Linked DNA regions of Homo sapiens. The protein of the gene in region 7 purifies or fractionates together with the protein of the main gene of each other region. This does not show direct contact. Each region holds a gene or a part of one and is shown on either strand. Other genes may lie near its edges. The genes, in order: EFL1, CAMKK2, RUNDC1, IQSEC1, OPA1, PRUNE1 and INSYN2A.

Region 1 (3,500 bases), on a different chromosome or scaffold from region 7:
TTTTGTGTTTTTTGTAGAGACTGAGTTTCGCAACGTTGCCCAGGTTGGTCTCGAACTCCTGAGTTCAAGTGATCCACCCACTTTGGCCTCCCAAAGTTCTGGGATTACAGGCGTGAGCCACTGCACCTGGCAGACCCAAAAATCTTAAACTCGTTTAGTATGTTTTGCAGAAGCTGTACCATCTTCTGATTTACTAACAAACTAAGATCTTTGAAAGCCAGATATCTTAAGTATTAAAATCTTGAGAGGGGAAAAACATGACTACTAAAGATCTTTTCTTTTGCAACAAATAGAATCCTTTCCGTAATGAGAGGTCTGCTAAATGAGGTTTAAACTGCTCATATGTGTTACCATCCAAACCTGTGCCATATTTTATCTCAAGCAAATAACCATATCAGTCTGGGTAACCAAAGTTGTTCTGAAAATGATCAAAGAATAAGGCAACATTCTTGTACTCATAACACAAAAGGGCTTTTGTGAATTCTGGGTTCTTTCTGAGAAAGAAAATTATTTGGGGCTTTATTCACTGCTAACCATTATATCAAATCCTATTCCTGATTTTTCTCTCTTTGGGAGAAGCAACCTTTAAGATCCCAGGAGACATGAAGCCCTGGCACTTAGTAGCTCTTTGGACTTTTCACTGGTATTAGTTCACTGAGACTTAGTTTCTTTACATAGGTAAAGAAAGGGGATAATAATTCATACAGATTGTGAAGATTAAAATAACACAATTTTTTTAAATACAGTGCCCAGAACAGCACCTGGCACACAGTAGTTCTCTTATTCTCTCAAGATCATGGAACTGTTTCAGTAGTGAAGAGAATATAAAGGAGGATTGAGCCCTGGATGAGAGAATCGGCCAAATTATTAAGTTTCCTCTAACCCTGAGGCCCTTTGAGTCAATATGTGGTTAATTACATTCTTTTTAGGAAGGTTCTTTTGCTGATTAATTCCTGAAAGCAGAAATCTAAGTTTGTTTGTTTTTTTTCCCAAAAGAAATTTAGGCTTCCATCACATTAAGGTTTTTGTGAGACTGAGCGTCATTAGCAGCATTTGAAAAATAGCTGGGTTAAGGCCAGTATGCATTGTGAATCAAATCTCCAAATACAGCATGTCATATACAGTGCTTTTCAACCTTATTTGAATATAGCATGCCTATTAACAGCCATGGAATTTGTAGATTTGTTTGGGAAACACCAATCTAGACTATTCTCAGATGCTATTTTTCATTTTCATTGAGAACTTTCTTAAGGCGGAAGTAAGAGTTAAAATCAAATCTTAATCCCTCAAATCTTTGAAGAAGACCTAAGAGCTTTTCTCCAGCCTCTCCTACCCCGACAAATGCTTATACCACCACTATTTGAATACTTCTATTGATGGCCAGTGCACAGCCAGCTTCGTGATTTAATGGTGTTTTTTTCTATATTGAGCAAAATGTCTGTCACCTGCTAGTTTCCAATCATCTGTACCACCATTCATCTCTCTTCCATGCAACAACTCTTTTATGTATTTGAAATAAATCATTAGTTTTCTAGTTTTATATCCAGGAGAAAAACTCCAAATCCTTCACCTGTTTTTCTGTTAGGATTTCTGTATCCTTTCACCATTTCAGTTGCTGTCTTTTGGACATAATTTATTTGGTCAGCATCCCTCTTAAAGCAACTATATTTGAACACAGCACCTCACATACCCTCCAACCAGTAGAGAACATGTCTGTGTCTACACTGTTACCTCCTACATGAAATACAACATTCTTCTTTTAATGAAATTTAACAATTACGTCTTCTCATTAATTCATATGAGAAGTCAAGATCAACCCTATTTCTTTTTTTTCAAAACAAAGTTATGTTTTCCCACTCTGTTCCCCAAAAAGCAGAATCCAAATTTTTGGTAATTGACTAGACTGTAGAAATCATGTAGTTGTATGAACTCCTATATTTATTTGTGTATGAGTACTGAGTCTATACACTTAATTTTTTTCTTATGAGTACTGAGTCTATACACTTAATTTTTTTCTTAAGTTATATAACATAATTAGCATTACAACAGTAAACAGGAGAAAAATTTTAATGGCAAGAAAAAGAAGTCACATCACCACCATCTTAACACATTGATTTCTTATTCATTTTTTTCATGTGTCCTTGTCTGATGAGAAATAAAACTCAACAGGTAGAAAATCAAATGTTTCGATGAAGTTACGGTCCTTTACATCTATAACAGTCCCCCAATTATCAGCTTACCAATCATGTTAGAAAAAAAAAAAGCTTAGGTTAGTATTTTGTATTAGAAAGTCCATGTTGTCTCCCAAGATTTACCTCATACTTGTATAAACATGTACAAATGTCTATAGTGTTTCCTTAAAATTCTACAGAAAATTAGCATATGGCTTTCTAGTCTGCAATTTATGGAACGCAGTGTTTATATCCTCAAAAAGTTTAGTCATTATTTACCTTTTTCCTATAGTCTGGCACCTACCTTACTATTCATAATTTCTCAAAAGGGCAAATTCTCTTATTATGGTGAGATATAATTCTGGTCCTGGAGACTTGAACTCATTTAAGAAGGCCAAGCACTTAGTCATCAACTGCTGAGCTACCGTGAACTTCAGTGTTCTCCCACTTCAACTTGTTCCACTTGCTATAGTTTGTTCACCATTCTCCTCACTGAAGAGAAAGATAGGTAACATAGGTATTGCGAACCCCTATTTTCTTGCTATCCTCTGTAACATGATACTAGTTTCTATAAGTTGTAGACAAGACATGTCTCCTTATTTTGAAAGTATAGGTTGAGTATCCCAAATCTGAAAATCCAAAATCCCAAATCATCTAAAATTTGAAACTTTTTTTTTTTTTTTTTTGAGATGGATTCTCACTCTGTCACCTAGGCTGGAGTGCAATGGCATGGTCTCAGCTCACTGCAACCTCCACCTCCTGGGTTCAAGCAATTCTCCCACCTCAGCCTTCCGAATAGCTGGGACTACAGGCGCATGCCACCACACCTGGCTAATTTTTATATTTTTAGTAGAGACGGCATTTCACTATGTTGGCCAGGTTGGTCTCGAACCCCTGACCTCATGATCCATCCGCCTCAGCCTCCCAAAGTGCTGGGATTACAGGCGTAATCCCACCCTGCCCAGCCTTTATTTTTTAATTTGGGATGCTCAAACAGTATATAATACAAATATGCCAAAATCTAAAAAAATAAAAAATGTAAAACACTTCTGGTCCCACTCATTTTGGAGAAGAGATATTCAACCAGTATTGGAAAAAGCTCTTTGCACTGTCTTTAGCTCTTTTACTTTGGTACATACACTCAGCTTGTTTTGATTTTGAGCATCTTGGACATGCTACTGATCCACCTGAGTTGGTATCCTCTTCTTCCTTCTACTGTGCATGTCCTCTTAAAATAGGGGTTGAGGAGGGGCTTTCTTCCTTCTTCTGTCATTGAGATCATTCATGATTGATTTCTTTTAGACTCTCATTACTCTGCAAAGGAATTTT
Region 2 (3,500 bases), on a different chromosome or scaffold from region 7:
CCACCAGGGGTAGGGGCAGGGACTTCCACGCACACACTCAGAAAGTTCTGCCCATCTCCTGAGAGTGAGAATTGCTTAGGAGCAAGTAGGTCCCCTTTTATGGCCTTGAATTTGGATCCTGACCCAGGAAGAAGGAGCCAGAATGTAGAGTCCTCAGGCCTAACCTTGGAGGCTCTGGGAATCGCCACTGACCAAGTCCCTGTCCAGGAGGGCAGTTAGCTCCAAGAGAGAGACCAAGAGTCCCAGGGATCCAGGTTCCAGGCAGCAGGCTTGGGGACAGAGACCAGCAGGTTGTCCCACCACAGCCACCTCGAAAGGCCTGGTTGCAGTTGGCCAGCACTAGTCCCAGTGGGCCGGCGGGCCCCTGGGCTCTGGGAGGGACCCTTGAGACTGGCTGGAAAGGCACAGAAGGTCCAGCTGTGAAGGATTGCCCCTGTAGGAGCCCAGATGCTGCTCCTGCTCCTCCAGCTTTGCACCTCTCTTCTCTGCTTCCCCACACACTTCCTCTCTCCTCCTCCCAAAGCTGAGCCCTGGCTGGGGCATCCATCCACATCTTCCTCCACTCTTTCCCCACCTGGGGCTGTGCAGGACCTTCACTGTTGAAGACCCACCCACACCCACTCACCCTTCCTCAACCACCCCTTGTGCCTGTAGACGAGGAGACAGCTGGCGTCGGACTCTGCACCCACCGTGGGTTACTGTGTTCCAGGCTCAGGAGGTTCTCAGTCCTGAATCAGTTGCCCTCCCTTTCCTTCCTGGGTCTCTGGGACGGGTTCTTGGGAGAAAGCGTCTGGCCCTGGAGGTCTGGAGTAGGCATTCATTATACGGGAAACACTTGTTGAACACCGAGTGGTTTCTCAGGCCTGTGCTGGGAGCAGGGGCTGGGTGGAGTGATGAACAAAACCCCCATGGCCTCTGCCATGCTTGAGAGGCAGATGCTGGTCAAACCAACAAATGTATGTACAGTGCAGTAGAGGGACCACAGGACATGCCCCTAATGGAGGCACACTTGGACCCACTGGGAAGAAGTGGATAGACACCGAGAGGATGGTAGGGTGTTAACTCCGCCGAGAGAGGGCGGACGGGCTAACACACTGGGTGGGGCCACTGAAGCAGGGCAAGGAAGGTGGAGGGAGGGTGTGGCGAGGTTTTACATGTTTACTCCAAGAGCATGGGTTTGAATCAGGGTTTGAACCAGGGCAGCTGGAGCAGGGATGGGCGGGTAGATACTGGGAAGTGGTCTGACTTGGGACAAGATGGCAAGGTCCAGGCCCCCTGCATGTGTTCATCATTTAGCAAACACGGAGCAGCCAGTGTGTGCCAGGCATAGGTGTCAAAGATGAGCTTAGCCCAGTGCCTGCTCTCAGGGGTAGGGGGCTGGGGGGCTGGGGGAGGGGCTCCTGGCCTTATAAGAAAGATGGACCTGGGAAGAATCAGCCTCCTGTGTGATCAGAGGCCAGTGCAGAGAGATGCAAGGGCTGGGGGCTTCACAGAGGAGGAGCTCCTGCTCTGGGTTGACAAGGCCACAGGGGAGGCGGCAGGGTGGGCTCACCTGGGGAGTGACATCTGCTCAGACACAGAGGAAAGAGGGGCTGGCATGTCCCAGTGACTGTAAGAACCTCAGTAGGGGAAGAGGCCTTCATTCTCTCTCTCTTTTTTTTTTGAGATGGAGTTTTGCTCTCGTTGCCCAGGCTGGAGTGCAGTGGTGTGGTCTTGGCTCACTGCAACCTCCGCCTCCCAGGTTCAAGCAATTCTTCTGCCTCAGCCTCCCATGTAGCTGGGATGACAGGTGCCTACCACCATGCCCAGCTAATTTTTGTATTTTTAGTGGAGACGCGGTTTCTCCATGCTGGCCAGGCTGGTCTCAAACTCCTGACCTCAGGTGATCCACCTGCCTCAGCCTCCCAAAGTGCTGGTATTACAAGCATGAGCCACCACGCCCGCCTCCCCCCCCCCGCTCCTTCTTTTAAATTGAGGTAGAATTCACATAACATAAAATTAAAGTGAACAATTCAGTGACATTTGGGACATTCACAGTGACATGCAATTATCTCCTCAATAGTTCTGAACATTTTCATTACTTCACACCCCCGCCCATCAGCAATGACTCTCCATTCACCTCCCCCCAGCCCTGGCACCCACTCACCTGCCCTCTGTGTCTATAGATTTGTGTATTCTGGTGGAATCCTACACTCTGAGGCCTTTCGGGCCTGGCTACTTTGACGTAGGAGAAGGTTTTCAGGGTCCGTTTGTGTTGTAGCATGGATCAGTGCTTCACTCCTTATGGCTGAATCATGTTCCATTGCACAGACAGACCGCTTTGAGTTTATCTTCTTCAGTTGATGGGCATTTGGGTGTTTGCATCTTTTGGTAAATCAGTGTTTCTTAAACACTTATTTTTCTTGTTAGCAGCAAATGCTTAAAAAGTCAGAAGCTCTGTGAATTCCCAAAACAGCTTGAAGGGGCACCGTGCCCTGGTTGGGGTGGGGTGAGGGGCCCAGTGACTCTTATGGGGCCCTCAGGCCATTCCCTTCATGGGAAATGGCAGCCAAGAGCATCACCAAGAATGACTGGTTCACGTCCTTGCTCCAGAACTTTCCGGGGCTCTCTGGCTGACCACAGGCCAAGTTCCAGACCCCTCTGGGTGGGGATGCTGAGTCAGGGAGTGAGGGGACCAGATCTGGGTTTTGGAAGGGATGGGAGGGAGGGAGGTGGAAAGCAGGGAGGCCTGGGAGAGACGCTGAGCAGTGGCTGAGGGTGTGGTGCAGGACAGCACCTTTTCCCAGAGGATTCTTTCGGCGGGGGTTGGTTGCGGGGTGGTGCTGCCCAGTTTCTCTCAAAGTCTGCCATCGGTCACCAGCCCTGGGAGCTGGCAGGGGCTGGGGAGAAGGAAGAGGGAGGATGTTGCCCAGAATCGCCCCCACATGGCCAAGCAGTTGCCTGCCACCTCCTCTTTTCTCCCTCTTCAGATCCTGGTGAAGACCATGATACGTAAACGCTCCTTTGGGAACCCATTCGAGGGCAGCCGGCGGGAGGAACGCTCACTGTCAGCGCCTGGAAACTTGCTCACGTGAGTGGCCGCCTGCCTTCTTGGGTGGGGGAGTGGTGGCTGGAGGCTAGGCTTGGGGCAGCCCTGCCCAGACCACTCTGCACAGGTCCTCCCTGAAGTGGTGCCATCTGGAGAGACTCAGATGAAACCCACCTGGTGCACTGGGACAGTCAGCACCCCAACCTGGGCTCAGCCCACCTCCTTTTGCTGACAGCTAATCCACCTGAAGTTTACCTTTCTCGGGAACTTGCACTGTAGCTGGGGGGCTCTTGGTCAGTCAGAAGAAAAGCACTTTTGTGGCCCGGGACCGTGAGTGCCTGATGGGGAGGTTTGAGGCTCTGTGCTGGGCGAGCAGTGTGGTCTCACTCAGGACCCTGTGTGTCCATGCAGAGAGGTGTCCACTCATCTGCTGTCAACGCCACCCTGGCTCCAGCTCTATGAAGCTGGTGTT
Region 3 (3,500 bases), on a different chromosome or scaffold from region 7:
GTTTTCTTTAAGAAACTATCTGTCCCTCATTGGAAATAGGATATTAATACAATGAGGCTTTTTGTTAAGACTGCCTTTTTTCCCCCAAAGGTCTAGTTAGGGTAGAGACAATCTATCTCAGCCAAGATAGCCTCCCAGGAATTAAGACATGCCATTCTCCACAGCCAGTTACCATAACACAACTCCTGATTACTCTGTGCAGCCAAATTTTGCAAAAGAATCTGGGGTAAGGGTGTGGAGAGAGGCTTTAAAACTCATAACCAGCTGGCCGGGCCCGGTAGCTCACGCCTGTAATCCCAGCACTTTGGGAGGCCGAGGCGGGTGGATCACGAGGTCAGGAGATTGACCATCCTGGCTAACACAGTAAAACCCCGTCTCTACTAAAAATACAAAAAAAAAATTAGCCGGGTGTGGTGGCGGGCGCCTGTAGTCCCAGCTACTTGGGAGGCTGAAGCAGGAGGATGGCGTGAACCCGGGAGGCGGAGCTTGCAGTGAGCAGAGATCGCGCCACTGCACTCCAGCCTTGGTGACAGAGCGAGACTCCGTCTCAAAAAAAAAGAAAAAAACTCATAACCAGCTTTCCTAAGGTTCACCAAAGTCCCTTTGATGTACGATAGACCACTTCTGAAAAATCAAAAGAATCAAACGCACCAGGAGTGGTGTCTCACGCCTGTAACTGCAGCACTCTGGGAGGCCAAGGCAAAAGAATCACTTGAGCCCAGGAGTTCGAGACCACCCTGGGCAACACAGTGAGACTTCATCTCCACAAAAAAATTTTTAAAAATTAGCTGGGCATGGTGGTGCATGCCTGTAGTCCCAGCTACTTGAGTGGCCGAGGCGGGAGGATTGCTTAAGCACAAGAGGTCAAGGCTTCACAAGACCCTGTCTCAAAGAAAAAAAAAATTAGCCAGGCGTGGTGGCATGGTGGTCCCAGTCACACAAGAGGCTGGGACAAGATGATGGCTTGAGTCTAGGAGGTTGAGGCTGCATTGAGCTTTGTTTTCACCACTGCACTCCAGCCTGGGCAATAGGGCAAGACTCTGTCTCAAAAAACCAAAACCAAAAACAAAAGAGTAAAAGGCAAGTGCCTAGGCCAGTGAAAAAAAACCAAAAGCCACATAATGGGGATGTGAAGGTAACAACGTTTTTAAAAAAAAGTATCTGTAAGTTTTGCTGACTAGTGACTCCTTTTTCAACTGTTGGCCACCAGTAGTTTCTGCATTTCAACTAATAAAAATGCTTCAGGGTGGTAAAGTCTTGTCAACGTATTCTCAAACACTGGTTCTTCCTTGTCTTTCTTGAGTCTCAAAAACAAAAAGCAAAACCAGCAAATCATTTGTAGGGGCAAGGCTGCGTCTTAAACTAGAAGTCTACAGCGTATTACATTTAACCTTAAAACGGTACTTACCAAGCCCTGAAGAAGTAAGTAATGAGAGAGAAGAAATGAAAAAAAAAAAAAAAAGAAAACAACAAATTAACTTTTTGTTTAAGTATTTAAAATGCAATCCTCTTGCTTTAACTTTGCTCAACATGAAAGCAAGCCTTTTCTCAGGGCAGTCCCTCTGTAATCCTTTCAGAGCGCAGTTGCATACTGTTAGAACCCTATCCCACTTCCCCATTTGGTGAAGGCCTAGTTCTCCTTTAAGAGGCTTCCTGATTTCCCCAGGCATAACTAAACATTTCCTCTAGAGGTTGTTCACACTTCTAGTCTAGCTCATATCACATTATTTGTTTAGGATTCTGTCTCTTCTAGTCTATGAACTCCTTAAGGACAAAGGTTTTGACTTTGAACCACAAATGCCAGGCACAGTGTCTGGCACAAGATAAGTTCTCAACATGCATTTGTTGTATGTTACTGAACTGAATTAAGGAAAGTATGGCCGAACGCAGTGGCTCATGCCTGTAATCCCAGCACTTTGGGAGGCCAAAGCAGGCAGATCACCTGAGGTCAGGAGTTCGAGACCAGCCTGGCCAACATGGTGGAACCCCGTCTCTACAAAAACTAGCCCAGTGTGGTGGCACGTGCCTGTAATCCTAGCTACTTGGGAGGCTGAGGCAGGAGAATGGCTTGAACCCAGGAGGCGGAGGTTGGAGTGAGCCAAGACCGCAGCATTGCACTCCAGCCTGGGTGTCACAGCAAGACTCTGTGTCCAAAAAAAAAAAAAAAAAAAAAAAGAAAGAAAGAAAAAGAAAAAGAAAAGAATGACAAATTCCAAATAATGAACTCTGAGTGGAGAAAGTTGTCTAACCAGCCTAAGGAGAAAGAACTGTGGAAAAGTCTTTTGTTTTTGTTCTCACTGTTACCCAACTTTATGTCAGGGAAGAAAGAAATCAGCCATAAATTTTGATTCCATTTTCATGACCAAGTCTGTTGAACTCTGTCACTTGCCATGGTAGCTACGATATGCTATTTGCTGGAGTGTGGGCAAACAAGAGAGAACAATGAGCTCTGGTGCAAAGCAGGAAATAACATAAATCATTTCCAGTATGAAGTAAGATAAGAGAAAATATTGGTTTAAAATATTTGGGGTTGAGGTGGGTGGATCACTTGAGGTCAGGAGTTCGAGACCAGCCTGGCCAACATGGCAAAACCCTGTCTCTACTCAAAATACAAAATTTAGCCGGGGATAGTGGCACATGCCTGCAGTCCCAGCTACTAGGGAGGCTGAGGCAGCAGAACAGCTTGAACCTAGGAGGTGGAGGTTGCAGTGAGCTGAGATCATGCTACTGCACTCCAGCCTGGGTGACAGGGCCAGACTCTGTCTCAAAAAAAAAAAAAAAAAACTGGGGGCCAGGTGCAGTGGCTCATGCCTGTAATCCCAGCACTTAGGGAGGCTAAGGTGGGAGGGTGGCTTGAGCCCAGGAGTCAGAGACCAGCTGAGCAACATAGGGAGAGCCCCACCTCTACAGAAAAAATATATTTTTTAATTAGCTAGTCATGGTAGTGTGCGCCTGTGGTCCCAGCTACTTGGGAGGCTGAGCTGGGAGGATGGATTGAGCCCAGGAGGTTGAGGATGCAGTGAGTTGTGATCATGCTGCTGCACACCAGCCTGGGCAACAGAGTGGAAAATAAAAATTTAGGGCCGGGCACGGTGGCTCACACCTATAATCCCAGCACTTTGGGAGGCCGAGTCGGACAGATTATGAGGTCAGGCGTTCGAGGCCAGGAGTTCGAGACCAGCCTGGCCGACATGGCAAAACCCCATCTCTACTAAAAATACAAAAATTAGCCAGGCGTGGTGACGGGCACCTGTAGTCCCAGCTACTTGGGAAGCTGAGGCAGGAGAATCGCTTGAACCCAGGAGGCGGAGGTTGCTGTGAGCCAAGATGGTGCCACTGCATTCCAGCCTGGGCGACAGAGTGAGACTCTGTCTCAAGAAAAAAAAAAAAATTGGCGGGGTACAGTGGTTCATGCCTGTAATCCAGCACTTTGGGTGGCCAAGGTGGGTGGCTTGCTTGAGCCCAGGAGTTCAAGACCAGCCTGGGCAATATGGTGAAAC
Region 4 (4,177 bases), on a different chromosome or scaffold from region 7:
GGTGAGTGTGAATCTGGAGAGAATGGAAAGAGGAAGGGAAATGGCCCTGTGGGCTGCCATCCACATCCAGCCGATTCCCAGTCTCAACTACTCCCTCTCTCATTTATTCCTCCCAGTGAGGCAGCTTTCAAGCAGTCAAGAACCAAGACTCTGGAGCCAGACTGCCCGCCAGCTATGTGGCTTGGGCCAGTTGCTGAACCTCTGGCTTTAATGCGCTCCCCCGTGAAGTAGGATGATAGTATTAGGCCTCATTGGGGTTGTCTTGAGGATTACCGTGCACGGAAGAATATTATCTACATGCCTCTGAGATAGGTCTGGGATTCCTGGTTTACAGATGAGGAAGCAGAGAGGATCAGATGAACATCAGACAGGAAGAGAGAAATCTGTGTGGGAAAGGCGGGTGTGGGAGCCGAGGATGGATGTGCGCTTCTCCCCTCCACCTCCCTGTCGCACACTGCACCACGCTGGCCTCCTCTGGGCCAGTCAAATACACCAGGCTGCCTTCCGCCTCAGAGCCTTGACGCCAGCTCCTCCCCTGCTTCTTGCGTCATCCGAGTCTCAGCCACACGTGCCTCACAGAGGGCCTTCCCGACCACCCCGTCTGATGGCAGAAGCCTCCTTCCCGCCTCTCTTGGGGTCCCTGCCTCCCCTCTTCCTGCTCTCTTTTCATCCTGATCCTTATCACCACGTGCAATCCTATATCTGCACACTTACTTCCTGGCTTCCCCTTAGACTGTAAACATCATGAGGGCAGATACTTGCCCGGCACATGGAAGGTCCTCGGGAGAGGAAGAGGCACCATAGCTAGACCAGAAATTCTCCCTAGCCACGTGCAGCCCCCTTTGGGACAGGACTGGCACAAACGAGGACTGCTCTGCCATCCACCGTGCAGCTACTGGCGTGGTGCGCCCTCCTGGAACCCCGTGGTATAGCTGTTATGATCCCTTTCACAGTAGCATAATCAAGACTCCCAGGAGAGACGCGGCTTGCCAAGGTCTCATCGCCCTTCAGTGGCAGAGACAGCCTTGGAGTCGGCCGGCCTCACTCCAGGGCCAGAGCCCCGAGAGCTCCGCGGCTCGCGTGTCTCAGTGCCGAAGGCAGAAAAGCCGCCTTGGAAAGTAGTGTCATCGTAGGCTCCGCGCGGCGCGTGCATTTTAGCAACAGACTTCCAGGTTTCCAGCGCGGGCCAGGAAGGGGCCGGCGCCCCGCGCCCCGCCGGGTGTGTGACTTTGCCGCGAGGGCGCAGCCGAGCGGCCGCGCCTGATGCTGCTGTTGCCATGGCGACCAGCGCCTCGGCGATTGGTCCGGCGCGGCCGCACTACGTTGCTCCTTGGGCGCGGGGGGTGGGGGAGGCTCCGGCGCGCCCGCCCCTTCTCCGGATGCTGCGAGAGCAAACCCGGGGCAGCCTTCTCTCGACCCTCCCCTCCTCATCCCCGCGCCCCGCACCCCGGATGGACGGGAGGGAAAAACCCCAAGGTGGGCCCAGGTAGCAGCGAGGTGGACGCCCCCGCCCAGCCTGGCGACCACGGTTACTCGACGTCCTCGCTCGCTCCTGGGCACGGTGTGAGCGCGCGCTACGTGCCAGGGCCCTCCACAGCCCGCTGCTGGCGCCGCCCCCCGCTCCCGCCCCAGCCTCCCTGGAGGAGCCCGCCACCCCCGGGAATGTGACTCGCCCCGCGATTTAATTTTATTCCCCTCCACTTCTTGCCTGAGCCGCCTGCTCCTCTTGGAAACACGTTGAGCCTCCCCGCTGGAGAGGGAGCCAGAACAGGGAAGAACGGATTCACACAGGATGGCTTGCAGAAGACGCTATTTGTGAGTATATGTGGCAGGTTTCTGCCTGAAGCCAGAGGCCAGAGGGGCCCGGCTGAGCTGGGAGCTGGAGTGAGGGGCATCGTTGGGGGAGGGGCAGGTGGATGTGCAGGTGACTTGCAGAGGGAGCTGGCCACCCAGCAGGGATGCCGGCGCTCGGCCCCTGCAGCGGAGGTGTTTGTTGGTGATGACGATGAGAAAAAGGCTATTAGTCAGCAGGTCTTCAGCAGGCTGTGAAATTCCCAACTGTGAGAGCAGGTATCCCCCCTCCCAGATCCACATTCAGGGTGCCCAGACCGGCTCCTACTGTTTTGGCTTTGGTTTAGCCCATAGCCTGTTTAGGAAGAGAATCTCTGCCCAGCACGCCCATGGCCAGCCCTTCAGCCATGCCTGATAGAAGGTCGCAGGCAGGCTGAGGCAGTGGCCAGGATGCTGCGTCCTCCAAGGGCAGGTGAAGGTCCAGCCCACCGTCCCTAGCACGGAGGCATCAGTGTCCAGCTGTGTGCCCAGGTGTTCTGTGGGCTGGCAGCAGAGCGGCTGTGTGCTGGGCCTCACGCCAGCAGCAGAGGCTGTGAAAGTCTGCACGGGGCGGTGACATCACGGGCCCGGGTATTTATGGAAACCAAAGCCTGCGCTTCGGTTAGCCAGGCTTCCCAGGGGGCAGTGGGGTTCGAATGCCAGCTTCCCTCACAGCTCTCTGGGCGCTGCACTGTGCTGTTCTAGGAGGAGCAACCTTTGCCCTCCTCTGGGACCCTCGGCTGCGGGGGTTGAGGCCCAGCGTCAGGTCTCCACCTGCCTAAACTATTTGCCCAGGACCCACTCATTTGGGGCTGTGCAGTGACCTCAGACCTTAGGAGGTTAGAGAGCATGGCTGAGTCCTCTTGAGCTGGGCTCAGTCGCAAGGCTAGGAAAAGGAGGCCTGGAGCAGTATGTGGGGAGCCTTCTGGGGGCTACCCCAAGGCCTCCCTAATCGATGGAGGCCCCTTACCATGGCAGGGGCCTGTGGAACCCCTGATAGAGTGGCAGCTCCCCGTCACCTCCACTGAGGGAAAGTAAACACACCTCTGCCTCTGCTGCGTCAGCAGTGCCAGGCGGCAACCCACGGGGGATGGCGGTGGCCTCTGGTTCGGGGGATGGCGGTGGCCTCTGGTTTGGGGGATGGCAGTGGCCTCTGGTTTGGGGGATGGCAGTGGCCTCTGGTTCAGGGAATGGCAGTGGCCTCTGGTTCGGGGGATGGCGGCCTCTGGTTTGGGGGATGGCGGTGGCCTCTGGTTCGAGGGATGACGGTGGCCTCTGGTTCGCTGTGATGCTCACTTGCTTTTTTAGTGGAGAAGCTCACAGGTTGGTTTGTCGATGCGAGCAGAGCACACCAAAGTTCTCACTCCCTGTGGCAAGGCCCTCGCTGCATTTTCTGAAACAAATAGTAAATCCTTTCCCAGCGTGGAACTTCCACCCCAGTGGCTGGGAATAGGTCCTCCTGAGACAGCTGTCTCCTCCCTGCCACACCTTTGCCTGGGCCCAGGAGCCTGATGCCAGAGAAATTCTAAACTCTCAGGGCTGTTACATCGGGGAGGGGAGATGTCATGAGGATGAAATGTGACAATTCATATTCAGATTACTTGGCCCAGTGCCTGCTTGCCTCCAATGCTCAGAAATGTCATCCTCACAAAGGCCTTGTCTGGGCAGGCACTAAGAACCCCATTTTAGAGATGGGGAAACTGAGGCTCAGCACAGTTCTACTGGAACCCTGGAGTATACTAGCCTGGGGTGGGGGTTGTAGCCCAGGAGCTATACTGGAATCACTTGAGGAGCAGTTAAAGAAACAAACAAAAAAAAAAAAACAAAAAAAAACTGTGTGGGTCCCACCCCCAGACATTCTGGTTTCTAGGTTTGGGGGAGGGCTCAAGCCTCAGGATCTTTTTCATTTTCCGGATGATTTTAATGTCCAGGTGTGGTTGATGTTCCCGTGATGCAGCTATTCACTGTGGCTGCGTTGCCCAAGCCTATCCAATTGCAGTTTTGCAGGGACAATGTTCTATATGGATTCCAATACTCTTCCCTGGAGAGTCTGCTTCAATCTGTTGGGGGCCCAGCCACCTGCATTTGAACACGTGGCTCTGGTGGATTTGCTGATTCCTGGAATAAGCTCGTCTAGCCTTCCTGCCTAAGAGAGGGGCTGGCCCGAGGGGGCTTAGCGCTCACTGTCTTTCTTTTCTGTGGGTCTTTTCACTCTTCTCCAGCTCTCAGGCTCCCAGTCTGAGCATTGTGACTCCCAGGCCATCCCCGCTCTGCCACCAAACCTATTGGCACCAGAAATACCAAAGATACTTGGAGGGGGTGGCTCTGTTTGTACGCAAGGATCTTG
Region 5 (3,500 bases), on a different chromosome or scaffold from region 7:
TATTCAGGAGGCTGAGGCAGGAGAATCACTTGAACCCAGGAGGCAGAGGTTGCAGTAAGCTGAGATCACACCACTGCACTCCAGCCTGGGCAACAGAGTGAGACTCCACCTCCAAAAAAAAACAAACAAACAAACAAAAAAAAAACAAAGAAGGAGGAGGAGGAATCAAGGAAGACAGGAGCAATGCTGTGAAGAATGGTATGGGGATATGGGAAAAGCGGTATCTCTTGTGTTCCTATACATACCAGACATTACGCTAGCTGTTTTCACTACAGCATAACTATATAAATGTTAACTCTCAGAAACACCGAGTAAGGTTAAGTATCCTTATTTTACAAATTTTTTTTTTAAGTATTGTTAAAGCAAACTAAATATGGCCTGAGAAGGACTCCATACTTCTATATTTGTGTTCTTGTGGACAAACCATAACCTAGCACAATAGGCAGACAAAATGGAAAACCTGAGTAGTATGCATCTGTAATAATAGCTGAGTGTTGGCCAATCCCAGTGGCCATACTTCAAGCACTAATAGACTGCTAAGTGTTCAAACTGCATTCAATTCTGGAGGCTGCCTGATTTGCAAAGTGTTTATTTTCCTTGCTTAATTAAACTCCATCAAATTTAACTTGTCTGAAGTTTTCTTTTAACAGATCTGGTGTCAGAAGTGGGATTTGAAGAAAAACTCTGGCAACCCCCTGGAACACCAGGTGACCTGGTGAGGTACCCACTGAGGCCGTTGCTCTCACTGGTCTCTTGATTGTAACTGGAGGTCATGGGTGAGTTTTCTCTCAGATTCCGAGCTCCACTAACTTGTGTTTTGAGCTCTCCGAGTTTACTCAAGCAATACTTAGCCTGGACTGGATCCAAGATCAAATTGGATTTGATAATTAACTGGATTGGATTCAGTTAGAGGCCTCAGACCTCTGATAAGTACCTTATTTAATAATGGGATCATCTCAATCCAAGGAGTCTGGGACTCCATCTTCAGGGACTCCAGCTAATTTTACGTATAAAAATTATGGGCCCAGAACATGTGCATTTTCAGTAAAATGGGTTAACCTCACTAAAGAAAACTTAGAATTAAAATGGCCACAATGGAGAAGTTTTAATTTGGATAAAATTGTTTGCAAGGCATATTAGAAAAAGGGGATCAAAGCCCCCACAAATACAGTGGGATGTATTGTCTCATGGATACGCAAAGGCCTCCAAAAGACTAAGTGAATCAAAAAGTGCCTCCTTAAAAGATTCTTTGCAAAAACCAAATGAAAAGCTTAAGCAACAGACCAAGGACATGAAGAAAGAGGACTGTACTTTGACTGATCTAACTCGGACTGTTCCTTCTTTGTCCATCTCTACCTACATACTCTGAGTCCACTAAACTTTTTGTTAAATTACACTTTCACCCTGAAGATGATTTAAAAAAAAAAAAAAAAAAAAAAGGAAGTTAGACAGATGTCTTACAAAGTGAGACCTTATATCAGCCAGGCCTGCCTGCTGTAACTACTTTCACTCCATGGTCTAAAACTGAGCTTAGCCCCATTGTGAAGGACTTCCCTGGTCCAAGGGAAAAGTCTCAAAAATTTACTGAGGAATTTAGAATCCTAATAGGAGCTTACGATCCAGGACTTCATGAATTTACCAATTTATTCATATGATACTGGGGGCTGGTGAAGCTCAGAAATGGATGGCAGCAGCAGAATGGGACAAACCTGAGGAGGACATTTTAAAGGGCCCTCTAAGAGCTCCTCACAAGAAGGACCAAAAATAGCTAGAAAAATCGCTGAAAACCTTTTAACATTCAGTTCCTAAAATTTTTCCACAAAAAATTGGTCCATCATACAATCTTGTAAGCAAAAAAAAAAGAAAAGAAAAGATGAACCAGTTTCAGATTACAGAAGTCGCTTAGAAATATTTGTGAAACATCCTGGGCTCAAAGTACAGCAAGGAGTATTCCCTGCAGGGGCTGAAACAGCATTAACTGCTTTACTTATAAATGGACTCCATCCTGAACTTAGCAGTTTAACTAAAAAACATAAGTTGCAATGGGAAGTTAGAGATGTGACTGAATTGGTGGCCTTAGCTGAACTTTTTTTTTTTTTTTTTTTTTTTTTGAGGTGGAGTCTTGCTCTGTCACCCAGGCTAGAGTGTAGTGGCGCAATCTCGGCTCACTGCAACCTCTGCCTCCCAGGTTCAAGCAATTCTCTTGCCTCAGCCTCCCGAGTAGCTGCGACTACAGGCGTGTGCCACCATGCCCAGCTAATCTGTGTATTTTTAGTAGAGATGGGATTTCACCATCTTAGCCAGGATGGTCTTGATCTCCTGACCTCGTGATCCTCCCACCTTGGCCTTCCAAAGTGCTGGGATTACAGGCGTGAGCCATCGTGCCCAACCTAGCTAAGCATTTTGAGAAGACTCTAGAGCAAAAAAAACCTCAAAAGGCTAATAAGCTTATGCCCCTTCAATTGCAACAGTTACAGGGACCAGGAACCAAAGGGACCATCTCGTTCTCATTTTAAATCACAATCGGGCGGTTCCAAGATGGCCAAATAGGAACAGCTCCAGTCTACAGCTCCCAGCTTGAGCGACGCAGAAAACGGGTGATTTCTGCATTTCCAACTGAGGTACTGGGTTCATCTCACTGGGGATTGTCAGACAGTGGGTGCAGGACAGTGGGTGCAGCGCACCGAGCATGAGCCAAAGCAGGGCGAGGCATCGCCTCACCCAGGAAGCACAAGGGGTCAGGGAATTCCCTTTCCTAGCCAAGGAAAGGGGTGACAGACAGCACCTGGAAAATTGGGTCACTCCCACCCTAATACTGCGCTTTTCCGATGGTCTTAGCAAACAGCACACCAGGAGACTATATCCCGCGCCTGGCTCAGCGGGTCCTATGCCCATGGAGCCTCGCTCATTGCTAGCACAGCAGTCTGAGATCAAACTGCAAGGTGGCAGCGAGGCTGGGGGAGGGGTGCCCGCCATTGCGGAGGCTTGAGCAGGTAAAAAAAGCAGCTGGGAAGCTCGAACTGGGTGGAGCCCACTGCAGCTCAAGGAGGCCTGCCTTCCTCTGTAGACTCCACCTCTGCAGGCAGGGCATAGCCGAACAAAAGGCAGCAGAAACCTCTGCAGACTTAAATGTCCCTGTCTGACAGCTTGGAAGAGAGCAGTGGTTCTCCCAGCACACAGCTTGAGATCTGAGAACAGACAGACTGCCTCCTCAAGTGGGTCCCTGACCCCCGAATAGCCTAACTGGGAGGCACCCCCCAGTAGGGGCAGACTGACACCTCACATGGCCGGGTACCCCTCTGAGACAAAACTTCCAGAGGAACGATCAGGCAGCAACATCTGCTGTTCACCAATATTCGTTGTTCTGCAGCCTCCGCTGCTGATACCCAGGCAAACATGGTCTGGAGTGGACCTCCAGCAAACTCCAATAGACCTGCAGCTGAGGGTCCTGACTGTTAGAAGGAAAACTAACAAACAGAAAGGACATCCACACCAAAAAC
Region 6 (3,500 bases), on a different chromosome or scaffold from region 7:
AAATGCTTGGATTACAGGCATGAGCCACCATGCCCAGCCGGATAATTCTTTTTTTGTGGAGGCTGTCCTGTGCATTATAGGATATTTGGCAGGATCCCTAGCCTCTACCCACATGGATGCCAGTAGCACCCTAAGTCGTGACAAACAAAAATGTCTCCAGACTTGCTGAATGTTCCCTGGGGGGCAAAACTGCCCCCAGTTGAGAACTACTGGGTTACAAGAAGGTGAAAATCCATATAGTCTGACTTCTTCAATCAGGGAAGATTTGCTAGACTCAAGAGTTTAGCAAAGTGGGAAGGTTCAGAGGAGTAACACATAGCAAAGAATAGTTATCAACTAATGTAACTTTAAGAAAAAAAGGGAATCTAGGGAAACCTAGAATCATCTTCCCTATACAGGCTATCACTCTTCTCTTCCCCCACTGGAAAGCCACAGCTCAAAAAGGGCAATTTTAGAAGACTTCTGGTGGTATCAATTGCCCCATCCAGTTACGAGATAGGTTTTTGTTTTTAAACCACCCTCGTCGCCATCTCCTACTCCCATCCCTGGAGAGAAATACAGAAGACAGAGGTTATCTGTCCGGGTTCTGCCCAAAGGGCCCCTAAAGAAGTTTGCCCTGAGGTCCTCCCCATGCCTATTTCTCTAAGTCTACTTCAAGAGTTTGGAAGCAGGCCGGGCGCGGTGGCTTACGCCTGTAATCCCAGCACTTTGGGAGGCCGAGGCGGACAGATTACAAGGTCAGGAGATCGAGACTATCCTGGCTAACCTGGTGAAACCCCGTCTCTACTAAAAATACAAAAAATTAGCCAGGCGTGGTGGCGGGTGCCTGTAGTCCCAGCTACTCGGGAGGCTGAGGCAGGAGAATCTTTTGCACCCGGGAGGCGGAGGTTGCAGTGAGCCAAGATCGTGCCACTGCACTCCAGCCTGGGTGACCGAGCGAGACTCTGTCTCAAAAAAAAAAAAAAGTGTGGAAGCAAAGGCCCATTCATACTGAACAGCACTGGGGTAGGGGGATTCTTTACTTTTTTCCAAAGCAGTAAGAATTCTACCCAATACCCCAGTCCTATAGTAACTCCTCTGACTTGTAATTCCTCCTCCTGATACCAGAGACCTCTGTTTCCTGGAGACCAAGAACTGCCCAAATGGCTGTGGACCAAAGTGACAGCAAAGCACTTGAGATAAGAGGCTGCAGAAATAACTTGCTCACTGAAGCAGTTAGGGGGAGCGAGTGTTCTCTAGAGAGGAAACTATATAAACATGAGGCATATGGCCCTGACTGGAGGAAAAACATAAGAGCAGTGGAGAAAAGGCAGAGCAAGCAGGAGAGACCTACTGCAGGGTCCAAAGAGATGCTGGAGAACCTTTCCACGCTTATTTACATCAGTGTTGCTTCACTGCAAGCAGCAGCTGAATCAGGTTCAGTTAGATCCTTACCATGAAGAGAATGCTAAGCAGAAAAGCACAAAGTAGGGACCAAATACAGTGGTATGGTTCTGAAGTCAGGAGAAACCATCTACAGAGGAAGGTGAACAATGAACCCCTTGCGCTCAGCCAAACCTAGACAGTAACCAAAAGGAATGAATACAAAAGGAATACTTTGGGACTTGTAGCAAATCTTGGAACTGGAGTGACCAAGGGAGGCAGCAGCATTCCTCTCCCCTGTCAACACCCACTGTCACCCCGGCCTGACTGGACTATTCACCACCCGCAAACCATGATGTGCACATTCCCAGCTCTGCCCTTTGCACTATTTGTTCTCTGTTTGAATGCAGAACTACTATTTGAAAAGATCACAGACTTTGGGGTTGAATTCCAGCTCTGCTTCTTACTTGTTGCAGGACTTTGGACCCTCTAAGCCTCATTTTCCTCATATAAAAATGAGAATAGGCCGAGCGCGGTGGCTCACACCTATGATCCCAGCACTTTGGGAGGCCAAGGTGGGCGAATCACCTCAGGTCAGGGGTTCGAGACCAGCCTGGCAAGCATGGTGAAACTAAAAAGCACAAAAATTAGCCGGGTGTGGTGGCAGGTGCCTGTAATCTCAGCTACTCCAGAGGCTGAGGCAGGGAGAATTGCTTGAACCCGGGAGGCGGAGGTTGCAGTGAGCCGAGATCCCACCATTGCACTCCAGCCTGGGTGACAGTGTGAGACTCCATCTCAAAAAAACAAACAAAAAAAATGAGAATAATATCGTAACCAATTTCATGATGTTGTTAGGAGGATTAAATGAGATAGTACCATAAGTGCCTACGCTGTAAATAGTAAAGATGTGATCTCCCATCTTCTTTCTTTACTTCTCCCCGTTGTTCAAGTCTACCTAATGTCTTTCTCTGTGAAGCCTTCCTGAACACCCAGCCCAGAGAAATCCTCTTCCTCTAAACCTCCAGCTTCTAGCACTTGTGGCTCTGAGACAGACCTTAACTTCTATCTTAAGGAGCTCCCTGTCTTTTCATGGTCATGTATCCCTGATCCTTAACATGGCTTATGTGGTGGGTGACTATATATTTGATTGTTCAAACTGGGACGCTTATGAGAATGAAAAGGGGTGCTATTAATGATTACACAGGGGAAAACCAAGACTGCCCTGGGCAAACCGTGTGTGGGGCTGCCCAACTTATAAGACATCATTCTCTTCTTTATTTAAGAAAAACATGTGTAACCCCTAATTCCAAGCCCATCCTCCACCAGCTGAAAGCACAAGCCAAACAGCCTCAGTTTTCTGACCATCAGAGAAAGAGTTCAGGGAAAATACAGCTATACTTAGCAGCATGAGGAAATCTAAGCTGCCAATGGAAAAAATACAATCTGAGGGCCACAAGTAAATAAATACAAACTTTTTTTCTTTTTTCTTTTTTTTAAAGACCCACTAGTTGGCCAGGCACGGTGGCTCACGCCTGTAATCCCAGCACTTTGGGAGGCCGAGGTGGGCCGACCACGAGGTCAAGAGATTGAGACCATCCTGGCCAACATGGTGAAACCCCGTTTCTACTAAAAATACAAAAATTAGCTGGGCATGGTGGCACATGCCTGTAGTCCCAGCTACTCGGGAGGCTGAGGCAGGAAAATCACTTGAACCTGGCAGGCGGAGGTTGCAGTGAGCCGAGATCATGCAACTGTACTCCAGCCTGGTGACAGAGCGAGACTTTGTCTCAAAAAAAAAAAAAATTAATTAATTAAAATAAATAAATGAATAAACACCCACTAGTTGAAATGACTCTCTTATCCTGATATGTTCTTTGTGGCCTCAAGAGGAGGGGGCAGGGAGGGGATTCTAGGCCTGGCAAAGTAAACCACTTCCCTTCTAAAGCTGAATATGGTATGATAACTACTCTTCAGAATAGTTAATGGGGGAGAAAAATAAACGAGACAGAAAGCCAGAGAGAGACAAACCCTCTCAGCAGAGAAAACAGGAACAATACTGATGCCAGGACTGCAAATTTCTAAGGAGAGCCAGCTCCTGATTCCTGCCTCATGCCTGAGAACTGCACACACTACATTAT
Region 7 (2,662 bases):
CTTACGTAGTCAAAGATGATAAGTAAAAATTTTCCCCCACCCCCGATCTGCAAGTAATACATTATCAACCTGCGAGATGGCAGGCTGTCACCCTGTACACAGCTATAACTCATAATTATTTTCAAGCCTTGATTTTTTTTTTAAATAATGAGAAGAAAAAGCAAGCCTTATGTTTGCGAAGGACTTCATTTTTATGTTTCATTTTGCAAATAAGCAGGGGGCGAGTGCAATTTTCAGCACATCAAATTCCGGAGAAAGCACAATTTTTTCAAGTGGTCGGAGACCATGAATAATCTCTAAAATGTGACTATATGTATATTTGCCTTCATGTGCTATAGCGCTAAGCCAAGTGACCACATCTCAGTGTCACAACGACACCTCAAATTTAGCATCCTCTTCATCTCCAGACTTACGACATGTTTACTGCTCATTTTCCAAATGGCCAGCAGCCAGGAGTCCCCCAAAGTCAGGATATGCCTTTAATCACTGCAAGTAGACAGGGTCAGAGCTATTGGACACTAAGTTTTCTTAGATCTCATTTTTAATCTTTTGGTACCCAAAGGCCAAATAATACATTCTGGCAAGAATCTGAGAACATACATAGAGATACACGATGGATAATCCACCCACCAATAAATCACAGGCATTCTGTGCCATGGCAGACAGTGTTTTTGTGGATCGATCCTCCGAGACACTGTTAGCCATGGTAAGTGCAGCCAGACGTTATGTACAATTCGTTATGCTTTGTATTAATGGTGGAAGCCCTGACCATCTCAAAGAGAAACAGTGCGTTTAGTTTAGCTGCTACCAAGGGACAATGTCGCCTACATTTAACCTATTAGTAAGTTGTACTAAACAACATACTTAGGGGAAAGCTGTGAATCAAATGTTTTTAGGTATTTTTTAAATCAACAGTAACACTTAGAGTTCTCTCTTGATTACACATTGCAATGTAAATCTTAGTTCCTTTATTTTTTCACTCATTTCTTTGCACCTTTGCAAGTATCTTTTTATAGAAATCAAATCCCCTAGTCTATTAATGACTTTGTCTATCAATTTTTTGATTTTCACAATAGGAAGTAGGGATCTTACTTTGCCTTTTTTTTTTTTTTTGTACAACTTAAATTTTGAATAGTTTGTGAGCATACAGGAAAACCTAGTCTTGAAGTTTCTGTCCAGCAGTTTCACATCTAGTGGAGTGCTGACATGCACACCTCATTGACTAGATGCCAAACACACAGTGGCTAACCTTGGTAAAAGGATCTCACCTGCTTTTGTCAGATTGGAGCTGCTTCTTGCCATGTATTTTCCTCCTGACTCAACAGCAAATCTGTTTTAGTTCTAAGTGTTTTGATTCTACAAGGACCTAGTGATCAGTAACCAGATCGGGCCTTGAAAAAAAAATGAAGAGTATGTCGTGTAAACATTCTTCGGGGGCCAAACAACACTGCAGTTGTATGCTTTAATTTAAAACACACATGTGCACACACACATCCTCTGCGGAAACACTATATGAAGTTCGAATCCCTGAATATCAATAAAAGGAACTGAGAAATATTTTGGTGCAAGAACAATGAGGAAGTTGATCCTGTAACATGAAGGAAGTGTAACTGTTTCACGTAGACTAAATATTTAAAAATGGGTTTCATGTTTTTTATACTGTTTTTAACTAAAGTTATAAAAATGTTTCCAACAAGTTCTCTCTCCTTATGTTTTAAGAATCCCAACTATCTCAGTAAATTGAAATAAGGGTATTAGCAGTTTTCTAATTAGTAACACAAATCTGTCTAAACAAGAGGACATCCTAGTACACAAAATAATGTCACTGTTTCACACCAGTCTAGACCAAAAAAAAATAAAATTAAAATGTTCAGAGTCAAAAAGGAACTTCTGAAGATAAATTAATTCATCCCTAAAAATTAAAGTGTGTTCAAAATAGAAAAACTATTGTCAAAATCATTTCATAGTTTAATTGCAACACGTCACTAACAGATGGTGATTCTTCTCTTGGAAAGATTCAAGTAAAAACGCTGATACAAAAGCAAGGTAAAACGCACAGGGTTCCCTTATGTAGATGTACACATGGCATTGCATATAGAGATTAAATTATTATACTTGTCGTTAAGTTCTTTATTAATTTTTAAATAAAAAAATCAAAGATGTTTTATGTGGCTATTAAACTTATTTCATGGCCTCAAAAATTGGGGAACATAAAAGTAATCTAAGAAAATAATAATAAAGGAAGAATGTTTGGGCCGATAGGCATTTCATCCGGTCTGCAGAAGACAAGAGCATCGTAAGGCCTGGGCCTGACCCACCAGCCAGAGCTGGCCTGGCTTGGGGAGGGAAGGGACTGACGCTTGCCCACCTATGCACCCTGGCATGGAGTTTCACCACCGGAACACATGGTGGCATTTTAGGATGCACACAGGCTCATAGCAGGAGGTATATGAGGTTTAATTCTTAACCTCAGAAGAAATGGCTAAATACATTGAGTGTTGCCACAGTACACTGTGGCATGTAAATCTTGCCTCCATGGCCCAGGGGAGGTAGCTTCTCTCTAGATCTTCCATTGAGCACATCCCCAGCCTCAAGGGATCAGCCGCCTCCTTCCTTTCTTCTTCCCCTCCCTAGTGGGAGATAGGCTGAGCGCCTACCTCTC

What was found.
Region 1: the proteins of INSYN2A (region 7) and EFL1 purify together in Homo sapiens (affinity purification with mass spectrometry; 2 studies listed by BioGRID and IntAct, with this or other methods). This does not show direct contact.
Region 2: the proteins of INSYN2A (region 7) and CAMKK2 purify together in Homo sapiens (affinity purification with mass spectrometry; 2 studies listed by BioGRID and IntAct, with this or other methods). This does not show direct contact.
Region 3: the proteins of INSYN2A (region 7) and RUNDC1 purify together in Homo sapiens (affinity purification with mass spectrometry; 2 studies listed by BioGRID and IntAct, with this or other methods). This does not show direct contact.
Region 4: the proteins of INSYN2A (region 7) and IQSEC1 purify together in Homo sapiens (affinity purification with mass spectrometry; 2 studies listed by BioGRID and IntAct, with this or other methods). This does not show direct contact.
Region 5: the proteins of INSYN2A (region 7) and OPA1 purify together in Homo sapiens (affinity purification with mass spectrometry; one large-scale study listed by BioGRID and IntAct). This does not show direct contact.
Region 6: the proteins of INSYN2A (region 7) and PRUNE1 purify together in Homo sapiens (affinity purification with mass spectrometry; 2 studies listed by BioGRID and IntAct, with this or other methods). This does not show direct contact.

Annotation. Positions count from the first base shown.
Region 1 is NC_000015.10:82,147,735-82,151,234, reverse strand, and holds part of EFL1 (elongation factor-like GTPase 1), read left to right. Parts: intron 1-3,500. UniProt on the Homo sapiens protein: GTPase involved in the biogenesis of the 60S ribosomal subunit and translational activation of ribosomes.
Region 2 is NC_000012.12:121,244,710-121,248,209, reverse strand, and holds part of CAMKK2 (calcium/calmodulin-dependent protein kinase kinase 2), read left to right. Parts: intron 1-2,969; coding exon 2,970-3,070; intron 3,071-3,500. UniProt on the Homo sapiens protein: Calcium/calmodulin-dependent protein kinase belonging to a proposed calcium-triggered signaling cascade involved in a number of cellular processes. Isoform 1, isoform 2 and isoform 3 phosphorylate CAMK1 and CAMK4. Isoform 3 phosphorylates CAMK1D.
Region 3 is NC_000017.11:42,983,565-42,987,064, reverse strand, and holds part of RUNDC1 (RUN domain-containing protein 1), read right to left. Parts: intron 1,415-3,500; coding exon of another isoform or gene 1,409-1,414; intron 1-1,408. UniProt on the Homo sapiens protein: May play a role as p53/TP53 inhibitor and thus may have oncogenic activity.
Region 4 is NC_000003.12:13,070,630-13,074,806, reverse strand, and holds the start of IQSEC1 (IQ motif and SEC7 domain-containing protein 1), read left to right. Parts: upstream 1-1,377; 5' UTR 1,378-1,792; coding exon 1,793-1,815; intron 1,816-4,177. UniProt on the Homo sapiens protein: Guanine nucleotide exchange factor for ARF1 and ARF6. Guanine nucleotide exchange factor activity is enhanced by lipid binding. Accelerates GTP binding by ARFs of all three classes.
Region 5 is NC_000003.12:193,610,208-193,613,707, reverse strand, and holds part of OPA1 (dynamin-like GTPase OPA1, mitochondrial), read right to left. Parts: intron 1-3,500. UniProt on the Homo sapiens protein: Dynamin-related GTPase that is essential for normal mitochondrial morphology by mediating fusion of the mitochondrial inner membranes, regulating cristae morphology and maintaining respiratory chain function.
Region 6 is NC_000001.11:151,011,449-151,014,948, reverse strand, and holds part of PRUNE1 (exopolyphosphatase PRUNE1), read right to left. Parts: intron 1-3,500. UniProt on the Homo sapiens protein: Phosphodiesterase (PDE) that has higher activity toward cAMP than cGMP, as substrate. Plays a role in cell proliferation, migration and differentiation, and acts as a negative regulator of NME1. Plays a role in the regulation of neurogenesis.
Region 7 is NC_000010.11:127,134,930-127,137,591, reverse strand, and holds the end of INSYN2A (inhibitory synaptic factor 2A), read left to right. Parts: 3' UTR 1-2,162; downstream 2,163-2,662. UniProt on the Homo sapiens protein: Component of the protein machinery at the inhibitory synapses, probably acting as a scaffold. Inhibitory synapses dampen neuronal activity through postsynaptic hyperpolarization.